7 linked regions of the Homo sapiens genome follow. The protein of the gene in region 1 interacts with the protein of each later gene in a biochemical or structural test. Each region holds a gene or a part of one and is shown in the gene's direction. Other genes may lie near its edges. The genes, in order: TMEM178B, IL16, GRIP2, APBA2, PDZRN3, CASK and MAST2.

Evidence for each region.
Region 2: the proteins of TMEM178B (region 1) and IL16 interact in a test that uses a peptide from one of them, tested with the Homo sapiens proteins (one large-scale study listed by IntAct).
Region 3: the proteins of TMEM178B (region 1) and GRIP2 interact in a test that uses a peptide from one of them, tested with the Homo sapiens proteins (one large-scale study listed by IntAct).
Region 4: the proteins of TMEM178B (region 1) and APBA2 interact in a test that uses a peptide from one of them, tested with the Homo sapiens proteins (one large-scale study listed by IntAct).
Region 5: the proteins of TMEM178B (region 1) and PDZRN3 interact in a test that uses a peptide from one of them, tested with the Homo sapiens proteins (one large-scale study listed by IntAct).
Region 6: the proteins of TMEM178B (region 1) and CASK interact in a test that uses a peptide from one of them, tested with the Homo sapiens proteins (one large-scale study listed by IntAct).
Region 7: the proteins of TMEM178B (region 1) and MAST2 interact in a test that uses a peptide from one of them, tested with the Homo sapiens proteins (one large-scale study listed by IntAct).

What each region holds. Positions count from the first base shown.
Region 1 is NC_000007.14:141,077,064-141,080,563, forward strand, and holds part of TMEM178B (transmembrane protein 178B precursor), read left to right. Parts: intron 1-3,500.
Region 2 is NC_000015.10:81,203,379-81,206,878, forward strand, and holds part of IL16 (pro-interleukin-16), read left to right. Parts: intron 1-3,500. UniProt on the Homo sapiens protein: Interleukin-16 stimulates a migratory response in CD4+ lymphocytes, monocytes, and eosinophils. Primes CD4+ T-cells for IL-2 and IL-15 responsiveness. Also induces T-lymphocyte expression of interleukin 2 receptor. Ligand for CD4.
Region 3 is NC_000003.12:14,537,543-14,541,628, reverse strand, and holds the start of GRIP2 (glutamate receptor-interacting protein 2), read left to right. Parts: upstream 1-1,286; 5' UTR 1,287-1,320; coding exon 1,321-1,360; intron 1,361-4,086.
Region 4 is NC_000015.10:28,888,974-28,892,473, forward strand, and holds part of APBA2 (amyloid-beta A4 precursor protein-binding family A member 2), read left to right. Parts: intron 1-3,500. UniProt on the Homo sapiens protein: Putative function in synaptic vesicle exocytosis by binding to STXBP1, an essential component of the synaptic vesicle exocytotic machinery. May modulate processing of the amyloid-beta precursor protein (APP) and hence formation of APP-beta.
Region 5 is NC_000003.12:73,397,942-73,401,441, reverse strand, and holds part of PDZRN3 (E3 ubiquitin-protein ligase PDZRN3), read left to right. Parts: intron 1-432; coding exon 433-520; intron 521-3,500. UniProt on the Homo sapiens protein: E3 ubiquitin-protein ligase. Plays an important role in regulating the surface level of MUSK on myotubes. Mediates the ubiquitination of MUSK, promoting its endocytosis and lysosomal degradation. Might contribute to terminal myogenic differentiation.
Region 6 is NC_000023.11:41,532,055-41,535,554, reverse strand, and holds part of CASK (peripheral plasma membrane protein CASK), read left to right. Parts: intron 1-581; coding exon 582-662; intron 663-768; coding exon 769-849; intron 850-3,500. UniProt on the Homo sapiens protein: Multidomain scaffolding Mg(2+)-independent protein kinase that catalyzes the phosphotransfer from ATP to proteins such as NRXN1, and plays a role in synaptic transmembrane protein anchoring and ion channel trafficking.
Region 7 is NC_000001.11:46,020,112-46,023,611, forward strand, and holds part of MAST2 (microtubule-associated serine/threonine-protein kinase 2), read left to right. Parts: intron 1-1,838; coding exon 1,839-1,971; intron 1,972-2,798; coding exon 2,799-2,860; intron 2,861-3,121; coding exon 3,122-3,207; intron 3,208-3,500. UniProt on the Homo sapiens protein: Appears to link the dystrophin/utrophin network with microtubule filaments via the syntrophins. Phosphorylation of DMD or UTRN may modulate their affinities for associated proteins. Functions in a multi-protein complex in spermatid maturation.

The sequences.
Region 1 (3,500 bases):
AGAATTCACAAGCAATTCCAATAACATATAGAACACAATTTTTACACTTAGTGTTCCTCTTAGATGGGCAGATTTTATAAGGAAGTTAAAAAGAGAAACTGATATCCCTATATTTAAATGAGACATTTTAGAAAAAGATGTTTATCTCACATTATTCATTAGAAACCGCAAAAGAGATCTCAGACCTCTGTCTTCTTTGAAATATCTACTTTGATTAAAATTCTGGAAGATATGTAATGGGCAAGGGAAAAAGAAAACCAGAGAAAAGACTTTAAAATCCGTTAATATATAGGAAAATTAGAGACTTATCTAAATGATCTAAAGAACTTAGTTATTTGTTAAATCGATGTTCATTACATTAGAAAGTGCTATTTGTGCATTTCAACATAAAACCACATAATTAATAAGAAAACGAACATCAAATCTATGTCTGATTTGAAGGTAAAGTCCTCTGGATTCATATTCATTCTGAAATCCATTCCCCTCCAGGACCTTCTGCCATGCTGTACCCACACGTATGCATTTCTCATCACTGTGTATTCATTTGTTTGCATTATTAAACTGTAAGTTCCTAGAGGTCAGGAAAGACCATCATTTGTTAAATACATTCACCAGATGCTTGGTATTTGGGAAATATTTCATACAAATTAGGTTCACAGAAATGTATCCATCCAAGCTTATTCTAATTATAGAAACACTTGTGTGAGAATTTAAGTAAAAAATTAGAAAATCGTGATGGGAAAATATGAAACAGTGTGGCTGTCAGGCCAGGTCAATATTGCAACAAATGCTACATAATCTATGAAGGGACGATTTCTTGAGCTTTGCCAAAGAATAAGGAAAACAGACAATTCTGTTTTGGATAACATGTCACTAAGCAGACACATATCACTTGTGGACATTATTTTTTATGATGGATAAGGTTTTAATTATTTCCTTCTTGGGGGTAAGATTGGATATAGGGTACAGCAAGGGTAGATTACCCTGAATTCCCATTTGTTGGCATCCATGACAAGTCTTAAATCAGGTCCTTTTGTCTTCTTGCTTTTAAATCTCATCCATGTCTCCCTAGTAAGTGACTGCAGGCACTGGGGACAGATCAGTGACAAGATCAGTTTCTGAAATCCAAGAGACTTCCAGACCCTTAGGAGGAGGAGTTATAGGTAGGATTTTGTTCTAGGGAACTCTAAGGGGAAAATTATATTATTTGGTTTGTACTAAAATATTATATTGATATAGTTTGAAATAAGTAGAACTTCAACTGATACTCTAAGAACTTTTTATTATTTGAAAATTGGCCTTATAATAGACTTTGACTTAAAGAGTTCCCATAATCACAGAGTGGTTGTCAATACTCCAAAAGTAATTTTAAGAAAACATTCACATATTTAAAAATTAATAATGGGATCAGCAAATATTTACTACACATGTATTGTGTTATGGGCACACATCGCTAGGATGAAGAAATGCATAAGATCTGGTCCTCAGAATTTGCATAGTCTGTTAGTGTCAGAGAAAATAGGTTACAACTACAGGATGATGAGAGCAGCAACAGAAACAGATGCAGAGGAACACAGAGAAAGTGATGGTGGATTGTGTCGGCAGTAGCGGGAGGTAGGCAGGAGGAGGTTAGGGAAAGTTGTCCTGAGGAAATGAAATCTGAACAAGATGTTTGATAAGGTTTGGAGGTGGATGTGGAGGAAGGATATTTCAGGCAATGGGCCAGCATATGCACAGCCATAGAGGTGTGGAACAGCAGTTTGGCCTTGTGAGTGTTGATTTCTGGGGCAAGGAGAAGGAGCAGACCAGGAGCTGGAGAGCAGCCATGGACCAAGTCAGGGAGCTCGTATATCAAATCCCCTACAGCTATGCTGCCCAGTTGGGGAGCCACAACCCACATGTGGCTGTTCAAGTTAACAATAACCAAAGTTAAATAAAATAGGCTGGGCACAGTGGTTCACGCCTGTAATCCCAGCACTTTGGGAGGCCGAGGCAGGTGAATCACTTGAGTTCAGGAGTTCGAGACCAGCCTCGCCAACATGGTGAAAACCCATCTCTAGTAAAAATACAAAAATTAGCTGGGCATGGTGGTGTGTGTCTGTAATGCCAGCTACTCAGGAGGCTGAGGCAGGAGAATCGCTTGAACCTAGGAGGTAGAGGTTGCGGTGATCTGGTATCATGCCGTTGCACTCCAGCCTGGGTGACAGAGCGAGACTCTGTCTCAAAAAACAAACAAACAAAAATTATTTCCGTAGTTGTATTGGCCACATTTCAAATGTTCAGTAGCCGTATGTGCCTACTGGCTATTGTATGGGACAGTGCAGATTACAGTGAACATTCCCACCATCGGAGAAAATTCTGTTGGACAGCGCCACGCAGAGCCTATAGCCTCTAAAAGAACCAAGCACATAACTTTGTTTCAGATGAGTATAATTCCATGATAACTTGGGTTTAAATTTAAGTATATCATTCTACACTTTAAGAAACTGCTACTTGAATATATTGGGCAGAAGGCTTTAGTTCATGGTCAATTATAGTAAATTTATATTTTAATTTTCTATCATCAACTCACAGAATTCTCACAAGCTTCTCCCTTCTTCCCTCCTGCCCTCTCCATCTCCATTAAACATCACTTGCAAAGTTGGTGGGGTGGGAAAGAGATTAATGATAATTATAGCCAATCTTGATGACAGGTCTCTCCTAAAAGTTTTATATGTATTAGCTAATTTATTGTTCATAATAACCCTAGGAAGTATAAGTATTATTTTAAATTCTCATCCTAAATTTGAGGGAACTGAGGCACAGAAAGGTCAGATAACTTGTGAATTCTCACAGTTAGTTAGGAAACAAAGGTGTCAGAATTTGAATTCTGGCTCTGGATGTGGGAACTCACCCACCACACTCTACCATCATCTTAGAATCTATCGGGGCAGGAGTGAGGTGGAGAAGAAACTGGGATATTGATTCCACAAATTGAGAATAAAAAGGAAATAATACTCTTGGAATCTCAATTCTAAATTGAAGTAATGAGAGTGGCTCACACACCCTGTTTTGAAGCTCACTGACCAAAGTGCATACACATTTTGTCATATAACTTTTGCTTATTTACTTCGCTTGCTGTGGTAGATGCTGAAATTATAGACATGAAGGACACATTCATTCATTCAACAAGTATTTATTGAGGGCCTTTGGGCTGTGCATCAGGTACAGTGTTGGACCAAATGGAGAAGCTTACATTCCAGAGGGGAGAGACGGACAATAAATAAATACTCCACGGCTGGGCACGGTGGCGCACGCCTGTAATCCCAGAATTTTGGGAGGCTGAGGAGGGCGGATTACGAGGTCAAGAGATTGAGACCATCCTGGCCAACATGGTTGAAACCCTGTGTCTACAGAAAATACAAAAATTAGCTGGGTGTGGTGGCGCATGCCTGTAATCCCAGCTACTCGAGAGGCTGAGGCAGGAGAATGGCTTGAATCCAGGAAGCGGAGGTTGCAGT
Region 2 (3,500 bases), on another chromosome or scaffold:
GACATGAAGTCCTTGCCCATGCCTATGTCCTGAATGGTATTGCCTAGGTTTTCTTCCAGGGTTTTTATGGTTTTAGGTCTAACATTTAAGTCTTTAATCCATCTTGAATTAATTTTTGTATAAGGTGTAAGGAAGGGATCCAGTTTCAGCTTTCTACATATGGCTAGCCAGTTTTCCCAGCACCATTTATTAAATAGGGAATCCTTTCCCCATTGCTTGTTTTTGTCAGGTTTGTCAAAGATCAGATAGTTGTAGATATGCGGCATTATTTCTGAGGGCTCTGTTCTATTCCATTGGTCTATATCTCTGTTTTGGTACCAGTACCATGCTGTTTTGGTTACTGCAGCCTTGTAGTATAGTTTGAAGTCAGGTAGCGTGATGCCTCCAACTTTGTTCTTTTGGCTTAGGATTGACTTGGCAATGCGGGCTCTTTTTTGGTTCCATATGAACTTTAAAGTAGTTTTTTCCAATTCTGTGAAGAAAGTCATTGGTGGCTTGATGGGGATGACATTGAATCTATAAATTACCTTGGGCAGTATGGCCATTTTCACGATATTGATTCTTCCTACCCATGAGCGTGGAATGTTCTTCCATTTGTTTGTATCCTCTTTTATTTCCTTGAGCAGTGGTTTGTAGTTCTCCTTGAAGAGGTCCTTCACATCCCTTGTAAGTTGGATTCCTAGGTATTTTATTCTCTTTGAAGCAATTGTGAATGGGAGTTCACTCATGATTTGGCTCTCTGTTTGTCTGTTATTGGTGTATAAGAAAGCTTGTGATTTTTATACATTGATTTTGTATCCTGAGACTTTGCTGAAGTTGCCTATCAGCTTAAGGAGATTTTGGGCTGAGACGATGGGGTTTTCTAGATATACAATCATGTCATCTGCAAACAGGGACAATTTGACTTCCTCTTTTCCTAATTGAATACCCTTTATTTCCTTCTCCTGCCTAATTGCCCTGGCCAGAACTTCCAACACTATGTTGAATAGGAGTGGTGAGAGAGGGCTTCCCTGTCTTGTGCCCGTTTTCAAAGGGAATGCTTCCAGTTTTTGCCCATTCAGTATGATATTGGCTGTGGGTTTGTCATAGATAGCTCTTATTATTTTGAAATACGTCCCATCAATACCTAATTTATTGAGAGTTTTTAGCATGATGGGTTGTTGAATTTTCTCAAAGGCCTTTTCTGCATCTATTGAGATAATCATGTGGTTTTTGTCTTTGGTTCTGTTTATATGCTGGATTACGTTTATTGAATGCTAAATGACGAGTTAATGGGTGCAGCACATCAACATGGCACATGTATACGTATGTAACAAACCTGCACGTTGTGCACATGTACCCTAAAACTTAAAGTATAATAATAACAAAATTAAAAAAAAAAAAGAAAAAAAAGAAAATTTGGAAGGCATTGGAAGCAGCCTGCACCAAGTCCTGGAAGCTAGAGAGCGCATGGGACATTCAGGGGACTGAAAAGGTTTAGTGCTGTAATAGAATGGAGTTCAAGATAGGGCAGAGCAAGAGCCTGGAGGGGTTGGGGGAGCAGACCATGATGATAAAAAAATTGACAGGCCACAAAACAAGACAAATTTTAAGTCTCAGTGACGGTTGTTAATACGATTTTGAAATAAAGCAAATGATAAATCTTAGACCGGGCGCAGTGGCTCACACTTGTAACCCCAGCACCTTGGGGGGCCAAGGTGGGTGGATCATTTGAGGCCAGGAGTTCAAGACCAGTTGGCCAACCTGGTGAAATCCCATCTGTACTAAAAATACAAAAATTAGCCGGGCATAGTGGCACGTGCCTGTCATCCCAGCTACTCGGGAGGCTAAGGCAGGAGAATGGCTTGAATCTGGGAGGCGGAGGTTGCAGTGAGCCGAGATCACACCATTGCACTCCAGCCTAGATGACAGAGCAAGACTCCATCTCAAAAAAAAAAAAAAAATCTTGAGAGATGATATATAATGATCTATGATGTCCCCTAAATAGTCAATCACTCTGAGAGCACCTAGCACCTCACCTCTTGCATAGGGAAGAGGCATCAGATAGTGCCATTCTTGCAATCAATGAAGAGGAAAAATACAGGCTCAAATATTGCTTTGAAAAATTCTTTACATAGCCACCAGTAATATCAAATAAAATGAATGAAACCTATGATTCATTAAGAAGGAAAAGAAAGTGTGAATAAGTTGACTGGAAAACAAGAAAAGGAATAATTAAGGAGCCATAATAAGAAAAACAAAACATGTGAGAAGAAAGATGAATCAATTAAGCTCTGTAGTAAGATTACACATTAAAATAAAAGAGACTCTCAGATTCAGTTTAAAAAAGGGAAACAAAAAAAGCCTAAAGAAACAAACTCTCTCTCCCCAGTCCAATTATATCCCACTTTCAAGAGACACATTTAAAACTTAATCACATAAAGTTACAAATAAAGGGATAGGAAAATACTGTGCAAATGCAAATTAAAAGAAAGTGAGGTGTCAGTGTTAATTTTGTCAGACAAAATAAAAATTGAGGCAACTATTAAATAGATCAAGAATTACTTTTTTACAAAATGATAAAAAGAGCACTCAATGAAGGCATGAAAATCAGAAAACTTTGGGTAAACATAAAGCGTCGAAATATGTAAAACAAAAAAATTAGAGATATACTCCAAATATGGTGTTAGATTTCAATGTACACCACTGTTAAGATTTTTTCAGATTAATTAGACAAAATGTACATAAAGAGCTTGAATTCTATGACTTACAAAATTGAATATGTGCTTACATATATATGCAGTCATGTGTTGCATGGCAATGAAGATAAGTTCTGAGAAATTTCATCGTCGTACAAACGTTACATAGGGTACTTAAACAGACCTGGATGGTATAGCCTACTACACCCCAAGGCTATATGGTATTGCCTACTGCTTCTAGTCTACAAGCCTGTACAGCATGTTATTGTAGGCATTTGTAACACAGTGGTAAGTATTTGTGTATCTGAACATTTGTAACAAAAGGTACAGTAAAAATATGGTATTTTAATCTTATGGGACCACTATCATATAAGCAGTTCTTTGTTGACCATAATGACTGCATTTTAATATCACATTTGAATATATACATATTTGAAACCCAAAACACAGAATAATCATTCTTTTCAAATGTGCACAGAACACATAAAACACTTAGTCACATCACATACTGGCTAACAGAGTAAACCTCAATGAATTCCAACAAATAAAAATAAGACACATCCTGTGGCACGATGCAATTAAACTGGAATTTTCTAATAAAAAATTGTAAGAACAGCAACACTAAATCTGGGAAATTTAACTACATGAAATTAACAATAACACCAAAAATCTCCTGAAGAACTGAGTTTAAATTGGGAATCAAAACTGCAATTACAGACCATTCCTAAAATAACATTTAGAATATTGTATTTCACAATTCCTGGGTTGGGGCCAAAAGGATGTTCAGAAGAGAATTTCGGGCTTTAAATAATGATGATGATG
Region 3 (4,086 bases), on another chromosome or scaffold:
AAGCACAAGTAGCCCTGCCCCAGATTTAGAACCTGGATTATTCTAAAGGTGCCACTAGCGTTGGGCTGGCAGGAGCCAGTGTGGGGCGGCCCAGGAATTGTGGCTAAATTCCATGCTGGGGTCACTGTTCTGGAGGGAACCCACAAGAAACCTCGGGTCCCTAACTACCGGGCAGCCCTCTCCCACTAGCTGCAGGGCACATGGAAGAAATATGAGGCTCGTGTGTTCCCACGCGGTCAGGAACTCCATGGGAGCCAGGCCTTGTCTGTCTGGTTCTCTGTTGCCAGACGCACTGTGCAGTTGTACAGGTTGTTGACATCCACCATTCAGTGCCCTGTCACCATCACCCCACCCTTCTTGGTGTCTGACCCTCAGTTGGTGCCAGCACACACTGGTGGGATGGAGGGCAGGGGAAATTGGGTGCAGCCTGCCACCCCTTCTCACAGACAGGTAGAGGAGGAGCCTCAGGTGTCCATTAAGATCAGCCTGGTCAGTCCTGAGCCAATGTGGAGGAATCCCAGGAGTGTGCAAGGCTAAGGCCCAGCTGGGTCTGGGACGGGGCAGAGCCTGCCAGGTGTGGCTGGAGCCTGTGACCAACTGGCCCTGCCTATCAAGCCCAGAGGCGGGCAGATCCTCCACCCAGCTCACTTGGTCTTCACAAAAAGCTGGGTGGCCACTCCACGTGGCAGGCTGCCGGGTTCATCTTTCCTAAGTCCCATTTTACCGAGGGAAAACTGATACCTAGGAGAGGTAGTTGGAACATTGGTGGGAGGGCCCTGGAGGGTCTCCAAGCTCAAGGGTTTCTAAGCTGAGACCTACAGAGACGCCCTGGCATTGTTCATGCAGTCAAAGAGTCTGTGCTTCATCTAGCTTATGTCCTGGGGTTCTGTGCAAATTCTCTTGGAATCTGCCGTTTAGAAAAAAAAAAAGTTTGGAAAGCACTGTTCCCTGTCTCCAGATGAAAAAACTGATGCCTAGTGAGGGAAGAGTCGTTTGCCAAAGTCCCAGGGCAAGTTAGAAGCAGGCTCTCTCTCTGCCTGAGAGCCCTGGGGGAAGCCCCAGGCATGCCACCTTCAAAGACCCCCTGTCCAGACCCAGGCTGCAGGGGTGGGGCATGTTGGACCCTGTCCTGGAGCCAGCCTTGACAATAGCCATGTCCCCTTTAAGCAGAGAGCCGCCCGCTGCAGTGGGTGGACTCGGTGCCCAGCCAGTGGGAGCTGTGAGCTTCCCTCCCACAGCCCCTCCCTGGGGAGGGGAGGGAGGGCCAAGCAGCGTGGCTCCCGAGGGAGTTGGTGGGCAGCAGGGGAGACAATAGCGAACATGCTGTGTGGGCTCAGCCGGGAGACCCCTGGAGAGGCGGGTACGTAATGGGGGGTCTGTGGGCAGAGTGATGGGGCTGAACACATAGATCCCTCTGGAGCTGCTGCCCAGAGAGAGGGGACTGGATGGCTGAGACCTGGGACTGCCACTCCCTGGAGACCCAGGGCTTGGGGAGGGTGGGGCAGGACACTTGCTGGGGCTGTCTGTCTGACCCTGGCCACTGTCCTGTAGCAGGATGGCTGAGCCTCCCCCAGGGCTGTCCAGCACAGGCAGGCAGAACAGGCGGGTCTGGAGGTTCCGAGGGCAGTGCTCAGCCTTGTAGGGGGAAGGCTGGTCCTATCTGGGTGTGAGCGAAGCCTTTTGCCCAATCTCAGGATCTGCACAGCTGCCTGGTGGGAGTGAGTGTCCGACCCAGAGGGGTGAGAGCCCAAGGCCCATGGGCAAGGTGGTGGTGAGGAGTTCCTGTGCTGGCACAGCTGGGCAGGAGACTGGTTCTCGGCAGGAGGAGAAACTCTGGTTTGGGGGTCTGACTGGTGAGCCCCTGGGGCTCTGGGAATGTGTGGGATGGGGGATCACAGCTGCCACATTCCTGGGTGTGCTGAGGCTGGGACCCAGGGGAGGGGCAGACACGATTGTTCCATCTGTCTCTCCAGCCTCAGCCTGGGCTCACCCTATTCCTCCAAAGAGGGAGCTTGGGGCCTGGACCAGAACATACTGCATTCACTGCCCTGGGGTTGCCTCACTGGTTTCTTCCCACGCTCTTGACATATCTTTGCACCACAGCTCCAAGGGCAAGGACTGTGGTCCCAGTGGACAGAGGAGGAAACCAAGGCTCAGGGAGGGCAGTGGCCGAGCTGGGATTGACACCCCGATGACTTTTACTGCAGAGCCCCCAGCCCTGCTTCTGAGGGCCCAGTGGACTTTGATTCCCACCTCCCTTCCCATGGCAAGGAGCAGAGCCAGGTCACCTCTGGACCCAGCCTTAGCGACCCAGGAAAAATAACACTCATAATCATAATAGCTGGCTGTTGTCGAGAGCTTCCTCTGGGCCAGGCTCTTTTCTAAGCTTTCTGTGCATTTTCTCATTTAATCCTCATAACTACACTGCCACTTGGGTACTGTTATTCTCTCCATTTTGCAGTTGGGGAAACTGAGGCAGAGAGCTGCTAAGTGACTTGTTCAGGGTTATATAGCCAGAAGTGACAAAGCTGGGATTTGACCCGATGGGCCCACCCATCCTTGGCAACTGCACTGTAAATGGAGGCTCTGCCTTCTTGGCCTGGACACATCTGTTCTTTCAACCCAAGGCCCAGGTGAGTGGGGTCACCTTGGTCTGCTGTGGTCAGGGCCACAAAGGCAGCAGTGCCCTGGAGACCTTACCTGGGGCACTGCCAGGGAGGTGTCTCCCCCTCCTCATGGGCCTGTGACCTCCACCTCGGCCCAGGGTCAGCATCAACTGCCTGGGCCTTTGCCCAGTCTCCTCCCTGGCCTGGCCTCCACCCCTTTGCTGCCATGGGAGGAAGCTTGCCAAAACACAAATCTGCTCAGCTCCTAAGCCTTGCATTCAAGGCCCTTCCTGACCTCTCTGACATTTTCTCTCTCTGATGACTTACTTGACCTCTACCCTCACCACTGTAGCCTCCACCCTAGGTCTCCTCCCCAGGTCACAGAACCTCATGATCACACTTGCTTCAGTTTGCATCAGCACCAAGGCTCTTCTTCCAAAAAGTGTAAAGATGGAGCTTCAGGCACAGTGGGATCCAGATGCTCAATTAACATCATTAGGACTCTGGGTCTCTTCGTAGCTTGCTCTGCTTCACTTTAGTGAGCTTCATTTCCAGGCAGACTCTCTCCTCTCCTTGAGAGTTCCTGGCACCTTCAAACTTAAGGTCAACCAGCTCAGTCATCCCTAAGGAAAGAGAGCCTATTTCCAGTAGTTCCAGCAAATGCCCCAGAAACGGCTCTCATTGGTCCAACTTGTATCACATGCCCACCCCTGATGGATCGCTGAGCCTCTGATTGGCCAGGCCTGGTCATGTGACCTCCCCTGTTGCTGGTAAGGACAGCCATATACCTCCACATTTGGCACAGAAGACTGCAGCCCTGAGAAGTCAGCCCACTGGCAGTGTGCGTCAGTGAGTGCCCCGATTGGAGCTGGGCTCTGTGGACCAGGCAGCCCTATGCCCTTTCTCTGCTCCTGATGGACTCTGGGTGGGTCCCTTCTCAGGCCCCACACCCTGGGCATGTCGTCTCACTCCAGGGAGTCTTGCTTTCCTGTCACTAACCCCAGAGTTCTGGCAGGAAGGGACTGTGACCTATCTCCATTGGCCCAGGCTGGGGCACACAGTAGGCCTGAACACAGATTTTGGCAGGAAGTCCCTCTCCATGTTCACTCTCCTGCCTTGAGGACGGGAGGCCTGCTCTGACTCCGCAGCCACAAAGACATCTTTGTTCCAGGCCTGCTAGGTCTGAGCAGGCACTTGCTGCCATGCTGGGGGCAGGGAAGTCTCAGTGGGTGTGGGTGTACATGTGTGAAGGTCCCCCTGCTGTGCCCTGGGCTACCCACTCCTCCGAGGGGCCCTCACCAGGCCTACCCCTTGGCTCTGAGACTCCTCAGGCAGGCCTGGCCTCCTACTCCACAGCAGGGGCTGTGGCCATGGGGGATCCTTCGCCTGAGTTTGCGTCCTGGCTCTGTCTCTTCCTAGTCTCTGACCTTGAGAAACTCATTCCACCTCTTTGATTCTCATTCTCCTAATCTGTAAATGG
Region 4 (3,500 bases), on another chromosome or scaffold:
TGAGAGGGTTGCTCACCAGGAGGCAGCCTGTGTGCCCAGCGGGGGCTGGGGGTGCTCTTTGTTCCCTTGGGTGGTGGTTGGCCCGAGTGCCCACAGGGAGGCTTCTCTGGCTCCTTCGTTTCCCAGAGTTCCTCCCCAACCCCCTGCCGCCCACCGCCTGGGTTGGGTCCAGCTCGTGTCTCAGAGCAGCCTGCTGGCACAGGCTGAGTCAGCTGTCGTGGGCACCGTCTTTTCTCGCCTCCCCTGAAGCCAATCTTCCCCTCTCTCCCTGTCCAGACACACAAGGGAGCCCTGGGAGGTAGGTGACCTCAAGATCATGCAGCCAGGCTCACTCTGTGGAACCCTACGTACTGGTGGGGTGCCACTGCTGTGTGCATTGTGATTTCTGTGCTGGCTGTGAGGTTTCCCAGGTTGGGGGCTGTGGGGTACTCCTGACTCTGCAAGTTGGCCCAGGCCAGGTGTGTCACCATTGCCCAGGCCTTCAGTGGCTTTCCAGTGCTCCCTCCACATCCACGTTACTCGGCTGGATTTTCTCAAGTTCCCCCACTTGCTCCCAAGAATGGCCCCTCCAGGCTGCCCTGGCTCCAGGCAGACAGGCTTACTGCCCAGATCTGCCCTGGGTTGTCCCCACCCCATCCCCACCTGTCATCTTGGCGCATGTCCATCCTGGAGATCCCAACTGAATGTGGGCTCTTTCCCTCTTATTCCTTGGTCCTCAGATTTGTCAGGCCACTCTTGCCTCAGGGCCTTTGCACCTGCTGTTCCCACCCCCTTGGCATGAGCCACCCCCAGATGCTCACATGGCTGGCCCCTCACTTATTGCCCACTCCCTGAAAGCCCTACATAAATTGGCTTTGTTAACCTTGCTTTGTGTTTCTCTTGTTAACCTTGCTTTGTGTTTCTCCTTAGTACTCACCATTCAGTGTGTTATTTATTTACTTGTTTGTTTATTGTCAGTCTCTTACCACTCAATTGTAAAAGACTTTGTTCACCTCTGGATCCCCAGTAGCTAGAAAAGTGCCTGGCACACAGCAGAGCCTTAGCGCTGTTGTTGGATGAGTGAGTGAACGAAACACGGGAGCAGTAGTCTCCTTGCAGCACATGTCCTGCTCCCTGTGCCTCCTTTTCCCGCGTCCCAGAGCTGGAACCTAGCTGTGTTCACATTTGGATCCTCCTGGCATGTAGCACAGACCCTCACTCAGTGGGCAGTCAGGAAAGAGCTGTAGAATTGTACAGTGCAACGTCAGTTTCACATAGGCCAGAGGAGAATGTGTTTGGGAAGGTAAGCAGCCCAAAGAGTGAGCTTTCTGATTCTGCACTAAGATTCCTTTTTGGATTTTCAGTTGTTTGGGTTCTCTGCACCCAGGCGGTCCCTGCTGCCAAAGTCAGCTCTGTGTCTCCCTGCAGTCACCTCGGATGTGGATGCACTTTGGAAGGAGGCACCCCCACGCCCAGATTCCCTTCCCACTCCATCTGGATCTTTCCAAACTTGTCTTGTATGTAATGTCAGACTCTGTCCCAGGGCTCCCAGCCACTCTGCTTTACCTTCCAGAAGCCTCCGCCTGCCTGACTGTCTCTTGCCTGTGTCCTGGCCTAGTTGGAGGAGATGCTTTAGTTTTATGAGAAAGGGACTGGGAGGTTGGAAAAGAGGATGGGATTTGGAGTAACAGGAGCTCAGTTCCAGCCTGGCCCTGCCACTAATCCCTGGGGCCCAGGGCCAGTCACCTGGCTTGAGAGTCTTTCTCAGCATCTGCAATACACGCACGAGGCCTCTTGCCTGCGGTTGTTTTGAGGCACAAATGAGATGCAATATTTAACTGATGCAAGATATTTTATGACAGCAAGTCATTTGGTGTGGCCACGTAGCCTTGGGCCTGTGTGGCTTCTCTTACTGTCCTGAGAGTTTTAAGGGTCAGGTTTGTGAGTTACAGCTACGGCCTAGTGAGAGAATGCAGAGGAGGCACGTCATAAACTCTAAGGGGCTGTTTTAATATAAGGTGCTATGTCTGTTGTTTTGTGTTTCAAGGATCAAAGTTAAGAGAAAAAAAATATGTGGTTGAACTTCCTGCATTGAGTGACTGAAAATATTTTCATCTCTAGTTTTCTGGAAACGGAAACACTCCAACATTTGAAGATGGTTTTGATGGCGAAACCACTGGAATGAAATGCACATCATTGGGCAATTCTGTGTGTTGAGTTTCATCCTTCTTTGTTTGTCATTTTAAATAATTTCCCGACAAATCTGGAAGGCACGTCTTGTCTTAACTTTGCAACAAGGAGGCTGGGGACAGGTAGCTGAGCTGTGGGTTGCCTAAGAACACTCTGCTGTGACGGGGCAGTGCTGGCCTTTGAGCCTGAGCTGGAGAGAGTGTGAGGCCCATGTTTTCTCCCTGTCTCCTGCTGGGGCCCATTTTGTATCAGATTTGTTTTTCACGGGGTGGGCATGACTAGGACTCGTGACCACTGGTGGGCAAGTACAGAGGCTAATTTTCAACACGTGCCGAGAGACTGATGGCTGGCATCAGAGAGTCATGGAAATGCCACAGATGACATGGGCCCTTCACAGGGATGGGGAGAGGGTCTGGGAGCTTGCCCTCCAGGAAGGTGGCTGACATGGTTGGTGGGACATGAAGGTGTTTTCCGTTTTGCACTTGAAGCCAACATGGATTCTTAGCACTTGTTGTCCCTAGAATCAACTGCGCAGAGAGATGCTTGGTTCTGAAACTCTCAGGCAAGGACAGTTCTGAGGAAACTCTCATTAGTAAATAGTGAGTCGGAGAACACTATTGACATTTGGCATTTTCAGTTGAGATATATGTGTACAGTCATGCGTCACATGACAGTGTTTTGGGGAATGATAGCATATATGACAGAGGTCCCATAAGATTATTATGGAGCTGAAAAATTCCTATTGCTTAGTGACATTGTCGTAAAGTTGTAGTGCAGTTACTTTATTTTTTAAAAAAATTTAATGTAGCCTAAGTGTACAATATTTATAAAGTCTACGCTAGTGTACAGATGGACTCACCCAGAGAAATTTCCAGTCTTGCAAGCTCCATTCATGGTTAGTGTCCTAGATGGGGTACTGTGTTATATATAATATATATATATGTTTTTTTGAGACGGAGTCTCGCCCTGTCACCCAGGCTGGAGTGCAGTGGCTCAATCTCAGCTCACGGCAAGCTCTGCCTCACGGGTTCATGCCATTCTCCTGCCTCAGCCTACCGAGTAGCTGGGACTACAGGCACCTGCCACCACGCCTGGTTAATTTTTTTGGATTTTTAGTAGAGACGGGGTTTCACTGTGTTAGCCAAGATGGTCTCGACCTCCTGACCTCATGATCCGCCCACCTCGGCCTCCCAAGGTGCTGGGATTACAGGCGTGAGCCACCACGCCTGGCCCATGTTTTATCTTTTATACCATATTTTTACTGTGCCTTTTCTATGTTTAGATAGATACTTGTGTTACAGTTGCCCACAGTATTCAGCGTGGTAACATGC
Region 5 (3,500 bases), on another chromosome or scaffold:
GATCTCAGAGGCCAGCACATATCTTAGACTGTTGCCTGGGCTCGAGCCTAGTTCTCTGCAGAGATAAAATCTAACAATGAAGCAATAAGCAGTAAAATATTGTCCTGTTTCCTGCGTAGAGATGGAGTTAGAAATCAGTCACGCTGAATCACGTGACTGGCAGGCTCCGGGATGGGCTCTGCAAACAACAAAGCCCATCAGGCTTGCACTTTGCATCTTAAGTCCTTCAGGAGGAAATGTACTAAAGGCAAATGGTAAAATTAGGATGATGGAGGTCCTGACCGTGCTGAGAGCCCCATCCAGAGGGAAGTGAGTCATGAAAGGGCCCACACCCTGGGAATTGCTACTGTGCCACTGGCCTGACAATGGGTGTAAGAAAAACAGATACTGACAACGGAAGAAGGGCTGTAAAGATGTTGCATCTCTTTTCAGGCATCCCTCAGCCCATGAATACTACGATCCAAATGACTACATTGGAGACATCCATCAGGAGATGGACAGGGAGGAGCTGGAGCTGGAGGTATGAAGAACATCCTTGTCTCATTTTAGGAGTCATTATTAAGAACACAGAATGCCTAATAAGTTCTCTATAAGCATAAATTAGTTTACGGATGCCGATGGAAAGTAACAAAAGCAGAACCACTTTTACTGATGCCCTTTGAAAGGCACAACTGAGATTCTTCTTCCTTCCTTGGAAACAGAGCTTAATAATCAAGTCCCAAAAGCAGAAATGTAAACTTTTTTTAATTTGAATCACTTAAAAGTTAGGACAGTAAATCCTGTTGTCAACCTTTGAATCCACATAATCCATACATTCTTGTAACTAACATAAGCCTCCTCACCTTCCTCCCTTTTATGTCATCACCACTCTTTACTCAAAGGCAGATGGCTCAAGAGTAGGTGGATAAATTACTTGAGTGAATGCTAGCCCGCCCTAACAAAAGGGTTTGTTCACTGCTTCACTTGCTTCAAGTTTGCTAACATTGATACAGAAGAAATTAAACAAGTCTGCAACTCTTCTTAAGTGTTATTTGAGGCCACACAGGAATAAAGATTCAAGATGCTACATAATGTCAAATAGGTCTCTGTTAAGGTTTAAAATATTTAGAGGACACCAGGTTGCCAACAGAGTTCTACTTCCCATTTTCCTTTTATTAAGGGTGATAGAAAATACAGAAAACACTAACTTGTATAATATATTTATATTTTGGGGAAAACACTTTTATATTTCAATGGGGTTTCAAAAAATATAACAGCATTTTTGAAAGCTGATTTTATGGAATAAGGTAAAAAGACACCTGATGTTGACAGGTAAGCCCTTGGGTACCATCAAAAGGTCACCCAGGAAAAATCGAACATTTTATCCAATTTCATGGCTAACTGTTGTGTAATCTATGCTGTCCTACCAATACTTCTGAAGTTGAATTGTTCAGTGGCAGTAGGTTCTGTGCAAGGACAGAAGCAGTCAAATAGTAGAAAACAGCTATGTTCCTCAACTTAAAGTTACCAAGAGTTCTCATTCCAAGACAGAAGTTAAAAATCAATAATTGTGTGCAAACGATGACTTCACTGATGGTTAGCCAGATACAGTCAAATCAAAGGACTTGTTGCCAGTGGCATGACTGACTCTGTGCCAGTTTTCAGAAATTTAAAATTTTCCCTAAATGCACCTGGTCTAAACAGCAATGGCCAGTATTCTCACTATAAAAACTTGACTGTTTCTGCTTGCTGTCAGCCACTTACCAAAGCGCTTGCCATTTAACAATTGTTCCAGAAAATGTAGTTTTGTCATTTTCAAAAATCAGGATTCTGCCTCTTATTTAGTGTCCTATCACCCCAGCTTCAGGGCTGTTTGGTGAAGCAGCCGTGACTCCTTCAGGACACTTGTTCCTTAATTTGTTATGTATGTTCCTTCCAAAGGGGGTTCATAATGAAATACATTTGGGAAATGCCAGACTGAAGACAACGAAACAGATTTCTTGGAGGACTTCTGAGAATCTTGACTATCTACCTAGAATCCCCTGGGGGAGTGGGCAGAATTTCCCCCACCTCTCTGGCCAAGTACCTGTTTATATTTCCTCAGTCTACAGTTCTCTGGAACACTGTTGGAGAAACACTGCTCTCCAAACAGAGGGCTATTTCGTAATCTTTATGGGACGACACTGCTTTTTGATGATGTAATTGTGGCAAAGTAGAGTTCTTTTAAAAAGCTGTAAAGTGTTTCAGAAGCTAGAGTTATGAAGTAGTAGAGACTTTGTAGTCTTTGGTATTTAGTTAAACTTGACTTTGTAGCAGTGGGTTCTTTAGTTCTTTTTTTAGTTTCTAATACCTTTGAGAATCTGATGGAACCTACAGCCCCCCGCTCTGGAAAAATGCTCCTGTCTGTGAGAGCTTGCATATGGTTTCAGGAGATTCACTGAGCCCCCACAGTATCTGCCCAATTTGGGCCATTCTGCCTTACAGTTTTTCCTTATACCTGACTATCACCAGAACTCTTACGTGCTTTCTATTTCTCTTTAATTCGACTCAACTTATTTAAACTACGGTAATTTTATTTTAAAGGAAACACTATACCACTGCGTCAAGCAGAAAGTCAGCATCCATTGCCTTAAATAGAAAATCCCATACAATTAAATACAGTGGACACAAGCCAGTGTTATTTATTAAATCCTGGTGCTCAATAAGGGTGCCTGCTGAGGGTTGGGAGCCTGGGGCCACTACATCCTGCCTTTTCTCTAAGGAGATTAGCTAGTATTAAAGAAGTGTTAAGACTAGCCCAGACTGAGTCTTTCTCCTCAAAGCATGAAGCACCTGAGAGCATCCTGCTTTCAGCAGGAGGGAGCCACTCAGAAACTGTTCCCTAGAACCCTGTTGTTCAAAGTGTGGTAGGAGGACCAGCAGCCTGGCTGGTCAAAGTAGAGTTCTCACCTAGGAGATGTGGGAACTACAGAAACTTGGCCCCCTAGATCTTCAGAATCAGAATCTGCACTTTAACAAGGTTCCTAGGTACCTCGGTGCCCATTAAAGCCAGAGGACCCCTGACCTACAGGCCACAGACCCAGATAAAGCAGCCCAAGCTATCATTTCCTCTTGTTCTCTTGAGTCACACCAGCGAGGCTTTTGTGGTGCCTTTCATTCACTGCAGTGTCGAGATGTGCCGCCAAGTCACGAATATTGTCCACACTGTCCCTGCAGTGTAACATTATCAGGGCCTAGGAACGACTGAGCCCCTCGTAGGCATGTGACACTGTGTTCCTAAGACTGCTTCTCTCTTTTCATGAATAAAAGCAGACACAACGCAGGTGTTTAGAAAACTAGTCTGGTATTAATATTTTAAGCTAGACCTTGGATGCCATCAGACTTTATATTCGTGTTTATTTTCAATTCTGTTCATTTTATTGTCTCTTACATTAAATATACTGTTTGGCCCTAGAAATGCAAAATCACGAAGTCACCACTCTGCCTGCCCTTAAGGAGCTCACAAGCCATTAGGACCATTA
Region 6 (3,500 bases), on another chromosome or scaffold:
GATAAGCTTGTGCAATAGTTACAGAACTTGCCTTAGAATCTAGCATGCCACCTTCATCAACTCTGTTGAAAGAAAGAACCATGAAGTTAAAGACCAGCTGTCCATGCATTTCTCATCCATCTCTAGAAATGATCTAGCTGGCCCCTCTCCTGGTTAACTTTAGTTGCATTCATGCTATATTCATGTTGGTCACTGTCTGTAGACTTTTTCTTTTTAGTATTGCTGACTTCTTAGAATTGGAAAAATATGAACAGCATGTGGTTTCAAATTAATTCATATGATTTGTTGGATACTACATGAAAAGATATGTAGTATCTTTTAGATTTGGACATTTTAATGCATGTGTTCAGCATCTTTGGATGCCCCTGGTTCTAAAGAGCATTTTCATGGGCTTAAAAATGAAAATTTCTCCCTAGATGCTATATGACTTAAATTACATGTAAGCCATATATCATAAGTTGGATTCATATTTTTAAGACATGGTTTTAATATAACTGTAGTTTTGCCAGTAAAATTATAATTTATGTACATGAAATAGTCATTCTACAAATTTACCTTTCTTCTAAATCTTTGCGTTTTAGTGTTTGATCAATTAGATCTTGTCACATATGAAGAAGTAGTAAAACTGCCAGCATTCAAGAGGAAAACACTAGTCTTATTAGGTAAGTTTGATTGTGTAAGTGAGTTGCTTATTCTCACTTTCAAAACATTTTGTGAACATTATTAAGAGTTGTCAGTTTTAACATTCTTTTTTTCTAAATGACATAGGCGCACATGGTGTTGGGAGAAGACACATAAAAAACACTCTCATCACAAAGCACCCAGACCGGTTTGCGTACCCTATTCCACGTAAGCAATGTCTCAATCTCTTTTCATTATATTTTTCCTATCACTTTTTTAACTCTATAATTTATGTATTTTTTTCTGATTACATAAGGTATAACTGTTCATTGTAGGAAATTTGTAAAATCAAAAAAAGAACAAGGAGGAAAATGAGTTAACAGTAATCCCAACCCCTCTTTCCCTATAATAAGTGCTATAAATATTTTGTTGTATACCCTTCTAGGCTTCTCTGTTGTATACCCTTCTAGGCTTGTCTTAGTACAGATATGTGTATAAAGTGTGTGTGTGTGTGTGTGTGTGTGTGTGTGTGTGTGTGTGTTTTAAATAAAATTAGTTTTATCCATTCTGTTTGTAACAATTTTTCTAACAATATGTCATACACATTACCTAGATGAATTATTCTTCAGAAAAATAAGTTTTCATAGTTGTACAGTTTCTGATATGACAATTTTTTTCCCTTAGTTAATATTTAAATTGTTGATTTCTTACCACTTTTTAAACCCAATCAATATGCTAACAGTTGTTTCTGTAAAGATTTTCAAATCTGTAAGATTTTTAATTCTCCTTATTTTCCGTATCTTATTCTTAACCTCTTGCCCTCTTCATTTTCTCAATTGTAAAATGAAGTAATTCAGGATTGCAGAGAGGATTTGAGATCATGTGTATGAAGCACTTAGCAGATGGTGGATAAGTAGAAGCTATCTACCACTATCATTTCATTATTATCATCATTATTCTAAAGTTTAAAATTTTAGGCCAGGCGCGGTGGCTCATGCCTGTAATTCCAGCACTTTGGGAGGCTGAGGTGGGCGAATCACCTGAGGTCGGGAGTTTGAGACCAGCCTGACCAACATGGAGAAACCCCGTCTCTACTAAAAATACAAAATTAGCTAGGCATAGTGGTGCATGCCTGTAATCCCAGCTACTCAGCAGGCTGAAGCAGGAGAATCAGTTGAATCCGGAGGTGGAGGTTGTGGTGAGCCGAGATCGTGCCATTGCACTCCAGCCTGGGCAACAAGAGTGAAACTCCGTCTCAAAAAAAAATAAATAAAATTTTAACCCCAGAAGCTTTCTAGCAGCTCAGGGTTGGAAGAGCTAAAGGAAAATTATTTTTTAAGAGCAACAGGAGAAAATGTGAAGATTGGCTCCATTCTATAGGGCCTTCACATGCCTTCCTGAAGCAATGTCAATACCACTTACAGTTATCTGTACACCTCAGAGAGCCAGGAGGCTTCATGAGAAAACCTTCATCCCAAAACCTTGTCTGATTTACACAAGAAAAGAAATGTATCCAATAGTGTCTCATTTGGCACTACTGGGGTTTTCTAGTAAAACACTTTGAAGTGTTCTTTTAATTCTCCTTATGTCTAGATCATGAGTACAGCAAGCTTAGCTAACATTTAGCTTCTTCTTAACCACGTAACAACTGAACTTCCATGTTATTAAATGGCCAGTTAACTAGTTTGGTTTTAAAACTTACCTTTGATGATGTCAATCATGACTAGTCTTTGAAATATTTGACCCTGTATGTGTATATAACATATATCTAACTACTGAGATGACTGAAGATAGTACAACATCAATATGTTATGTAAGTTCTTGGCTGGGCGCGGTGGCTCACACCTATAATCCCAGCACTTTGGGAGGCCGAGATGGGTGGATCACATGAGACCAGGAGTTTGAGACCAGCCTGGCCAATGTGGTGAAACCCCATCTCTACTAAAAATACAAAAGTTAGCCGGGCATGGTGGCACACACCTGTAGTCCCAGCTATTAGGGTGGCTGAGGCATGAAAATCGCTTGGAACCCGGGAGCTGGAAGTTGCAGTGAGCTGAGATCTTGCTACTGCACTCCAGCCTGGGCAACAGAGTGAGACCCTGTCTCAATAAATAAATAAATAGTAACGCCGGTTCTTCAGCTTTTGATGTGCCTAGAGAAAGGGCTTCTCTTAAAATGTCCACATTTTGATGACCACGAGCACTTTATGTTCTAACAAACAGGCTAGCAGGAAAGGGGGATTCCCCATTAGTTTAGGCTCATGTATACAGAAGAGAGTAGCATAAATTTGTTCTTTCTCAAAGAAAGAAGGAAGCAAAGAAATTGAGAGAGAGAGGGAAAAAAAGGGAAGGAAGGGAGAAAAGAAAGGGGGGTAGGGAGAGAGAATATTAAAACCAGTGTTCCTGGCTCATCTAGAAAAACATTTCCTAAAGTGTGTTTTGCAGGATACTGGTCCTATTAGTATCCACAGAACTAGAGCTTATTGGCATATACTTCAGTTACACTCACTTAGGTGAGGGGTGGGCAAGCCTTTTCTGTAAAGGACCAGATAGTACACATTTGAGGCTTTAAGGCCATACAGTCTATCACAAGCACTTAGCTCTGCTGTTGTCTCATGAAAACAACCATAGGCAATATGTAAACAAAAGCACATGGCTGTGTTCCAGTAAAACTTTGTTTACAAAAACAGACAGTAGGTGGCCAGGTGCAGTGGCTCACACCTGTAATCCCAGCACTTTGGGAGACTGAGGCGGGCAGATCACCTGAGGTCAGGAGTTTGAGACCAGTCTGGCCAACATGGTGAAACCCCGTCTCTGTTGGAAATACAAAAAATAGCTGGGCATGGTGGTACACGCCTATAATCCCAGCTGCTCAGGAGG
Region 7 (3,500 bases), on another chromosome or scaffold:
CTACAGTGGAGTTGGGAAGCATGAGGCATGAGGACATGTAAATAGTAATTACAATACTGCAAGAAGTGTTGCAGTTGAGGTCAGTACACAGCGTAACGGGAACCTGGAAAAGGAAGTGCTTTAGTCTTCCCTGGAAGGAACATTCAGTGAATGCTCCCTGGGGGACGTGAGGCTTATTCAGCAAACTGAAGGATGAGTCTAAGTTTCCCAGATCGGGAGCATGGGAAGGAGCATTCAGTGGGGCACAGGGTGGGTTTGAAGAAGTGCTGAGGGGTAAGCCTGGAAGGTAGGCTGTGACAGGGTCATGGAGGGTGTCGGGTTCTCGGCTCTGGAGTTTTTCATTACCCTTACGGCCACTTGGAGACACCAGAAAGTTTAGGTAAGAATGTGACATGGCCGCATTTACTTTTTTCTTAAAAAATATTATTAAGGTATAATTTTCATACAATAAAATATATCCCTTTGATGGTACAGTTCATTGAGATTTAACAAATACACACTTGTAGAATCGTGGCCACAGCTGACATAGAGAATATTTCTGTCATATAAGTTCCCTTGTGCCCCTTTGAAGTCAGTCCTCTCTTCCTCCTGCTCCCAGACAATAACTTAACTGCTTTGTTTCACTAGGGATGGGTTTGCCTTTTGTACAGTTTCCTAGAAATGAAACCATGTTTCTGTGTGGTTTCTGTAGTATGTTCTGAATTCTTTCACTCAGCATGTTTGTAGAAATTCATACATGTTGTTGCATGTATCAGTAATTGGTTCCTATTTATTTCTGTGTAAATATTACATCAGATTTAGTCCTAAGAAAGATTACTTTGGCTGCAACATGGATAGTGAATTGGAAGAGAGGGCAGGATGAGCCAGGGACATCAGGGGAGAGGTACTCAAAGCAAATTCATGTGAGATGGGGTGGCCAGAACTCAGACAGTGAATGGTAGGATAATAGAGAGAAAGAGGTGGATTAGAGGGGTATTTATGAGAGAGACATTCTGACCAAATAGGAGCTAAGGAAGGATAAGAAGTTAAAAGGACTTCCAGGTCTGGCGTAGGTTATATCCAGATAGGTACAGTTCTCCAAAACAGTGAGGCCACAGGGAATGAGAACAGAGTTCAGGGCAGAGGCTATGCTGTGATAGAGCAGAGAGCCTCTCCCTCAGGAACATGAAGTCCTTGGCTAAGCAGGGGCTTGGAGTCAGACCTGGGCTGAATGCTGGTTTTCTGTTCCTTCCTACTACTGTGATTATGGACAAATCAGTGCATCCCTGAAAGCCTTGATTTCCTCAGTGAGGTCAAAGAGTTGCTAGAGGGTTTAACCCAGTGTGTGGCACTTAGTAGGCACTCAGTTATTATGTGCAGACAAGGATTGTGCTTTTCAATGGATTTCCAGCCTCTAGCACATAGGAGGTGCCCAGTAAATATTTGAAGGTATACATGCACCAGTAGGGCTTTGCCAAAGCTCTTGTGAGCCATAATTGAGTGTGTGCCAGGACAGCTGTGGACTGGGCATCTGAATACACCAGACAGTGCCACCTGGCTGATGGAAAGCATGGGACCAGATCAATAGGCTGAGCTCTCTTTAGAGTAAAACCTCTAGTTCTTACTGCCAGGAAGACAGCATATGCTTAGCATGTCCAATCTGGAGGTGACCTGTAAGACATCTTTGTCCCCATTCCTGTGATCCCTGAATCATGTTGTTTCTGAATATTCAGGGGTGGGAGTGTCCTATCACAGAGAAAGTCTTGTTCATCTCAGTCTACTATATGCTGTAAAACCAAAGATGCCAGCAGCTTTCGCTTATATCTGTCACCACTGACTATCTCTCTCCCTTGGTACAGGAGTTTGACCCTGAAGAGTTCTACCACCTTTTAGAAGCAGCTGAGGGCCACGCCAAAGAGGGACAAGGGATTAAATGTGACATTCCCCGCTACATCGTTAGCCAGCTGGGCCTCACCCGGGATCCCCTAGAAGGTGAGCATGCTGCCTAGTGGCTGCAAAGAGGCCCCACTGCTGCTGGCAAGCTCTAACAGCAGGGAAGCTGCTTGGAAAAGAGACTTAGCTTGGACATGGACACAACATGGCCCCGGGGGCCTCAGGATTTTAGGAGATACCCTGTGATCTCTGTGACAAAACAGTCTTTACTTTGGAACTGCTGTTCACATCTGCCTGATAGATCCCAACCTGGATTGCATTGGCCCGGCTGAGTTGCATTTAGAACCTCAGTTCCAAAGAGGTCAACAACAAAGGGCCACAATCACATTTGCAAAAATGGTCACCTCCTCTGCAACTTGCCTCTACTCTTGGCCACCTTACAGGTCTTCCTGTGTCTTTGGGGTAGTCCAACACAGGGCTTCAGAGGATACTGCCATTCTTCTGGGCTTCCTGCTGAACCCCTGCAGCAACCATGGGCTTCCAAGTCCCTGGTCTGTAGGTATCCTGCTCCTGCCTTCTGTGCTTCCCAGCCCCATCCAGTGAAGCAGTCTTGGCCAGCAGGATGGGAACTAGTAACCCAGTTTCAGGCCCTGTTTTCCAGGAAATGTCCCCAGTTTATAGAATTTGCCAGGCCCTGTGAATGGCAATGGACTTCTGGAAATGGGAGTAGCAGTAGGATTTGGCTTGTTTCCTGATCCAAAAGCTGGGACTACATTGGGTATAGTGCCATGGGACTGAATTCACATCCTAGGCTGATGCAAAAAGCATTAATGACTACCCTACATGCACCTGTTGTGTGATCTGAGGATACTGCTGAGATACCTGACATTGCCACGCACATTCTTCTCTTGTATCTTTGTTTCCAGAAATGGCCCAGTTGAGCAGCTGTGACAGTCCTGACACTCCAGAGACAGATGATTCTATTGAGGTAAAAACCCTGAGCTCCTACCCCATTCCTGGAGCCTGGGCCCTATGAAGCAAAGAGCTATGAATTCTCTTTAAGAGAATATCTGAGGAAGGGATGGGGGAGTTGGTGACAGCAAACACTGAGAAGTCATTCTACTCCCAGAAGAATGAGCAGGAGACTGCACTAGAGCTGACAGCTGAGAAGATGCTAGAGCCACAGCTTCTGCAAGGATATGGGCTCTGAGAAGCATGCCTGTCTCCTGCCTTTTCCCTTGTCTTCCAGGGCCATGGGGCATCTCTGCCATCTAAAAAGACACCCTCTGAAGAGGACTTCGAGACCATTAAGCTCATCAGCAATGGCGCCTATGGGTAAAGGCAGGGGTCAGGGTGTGGCCAGGACTGAAGCCGGGTCAGCCTTTGATCTCTTCCATGTGAGAGTGTATGCTGCCCAGTCCTCTGGGCAGATGCCTCGGGGTGGACCTTCTCACTCCCAGAAGCCTCCTGGGTGGGCAGGAGTTCAGATTCCTCTGACATCCGATCATTGTTCCTTTCCCAGACAAGATTCCCACGCCTCTTACTACCACGCATCCTCCATTCCCTGAGCTCTGGGGAAGCATTGAGCCGTGTCATCAGGACATGGTCTATCAAGAAGTTTAAGAGTT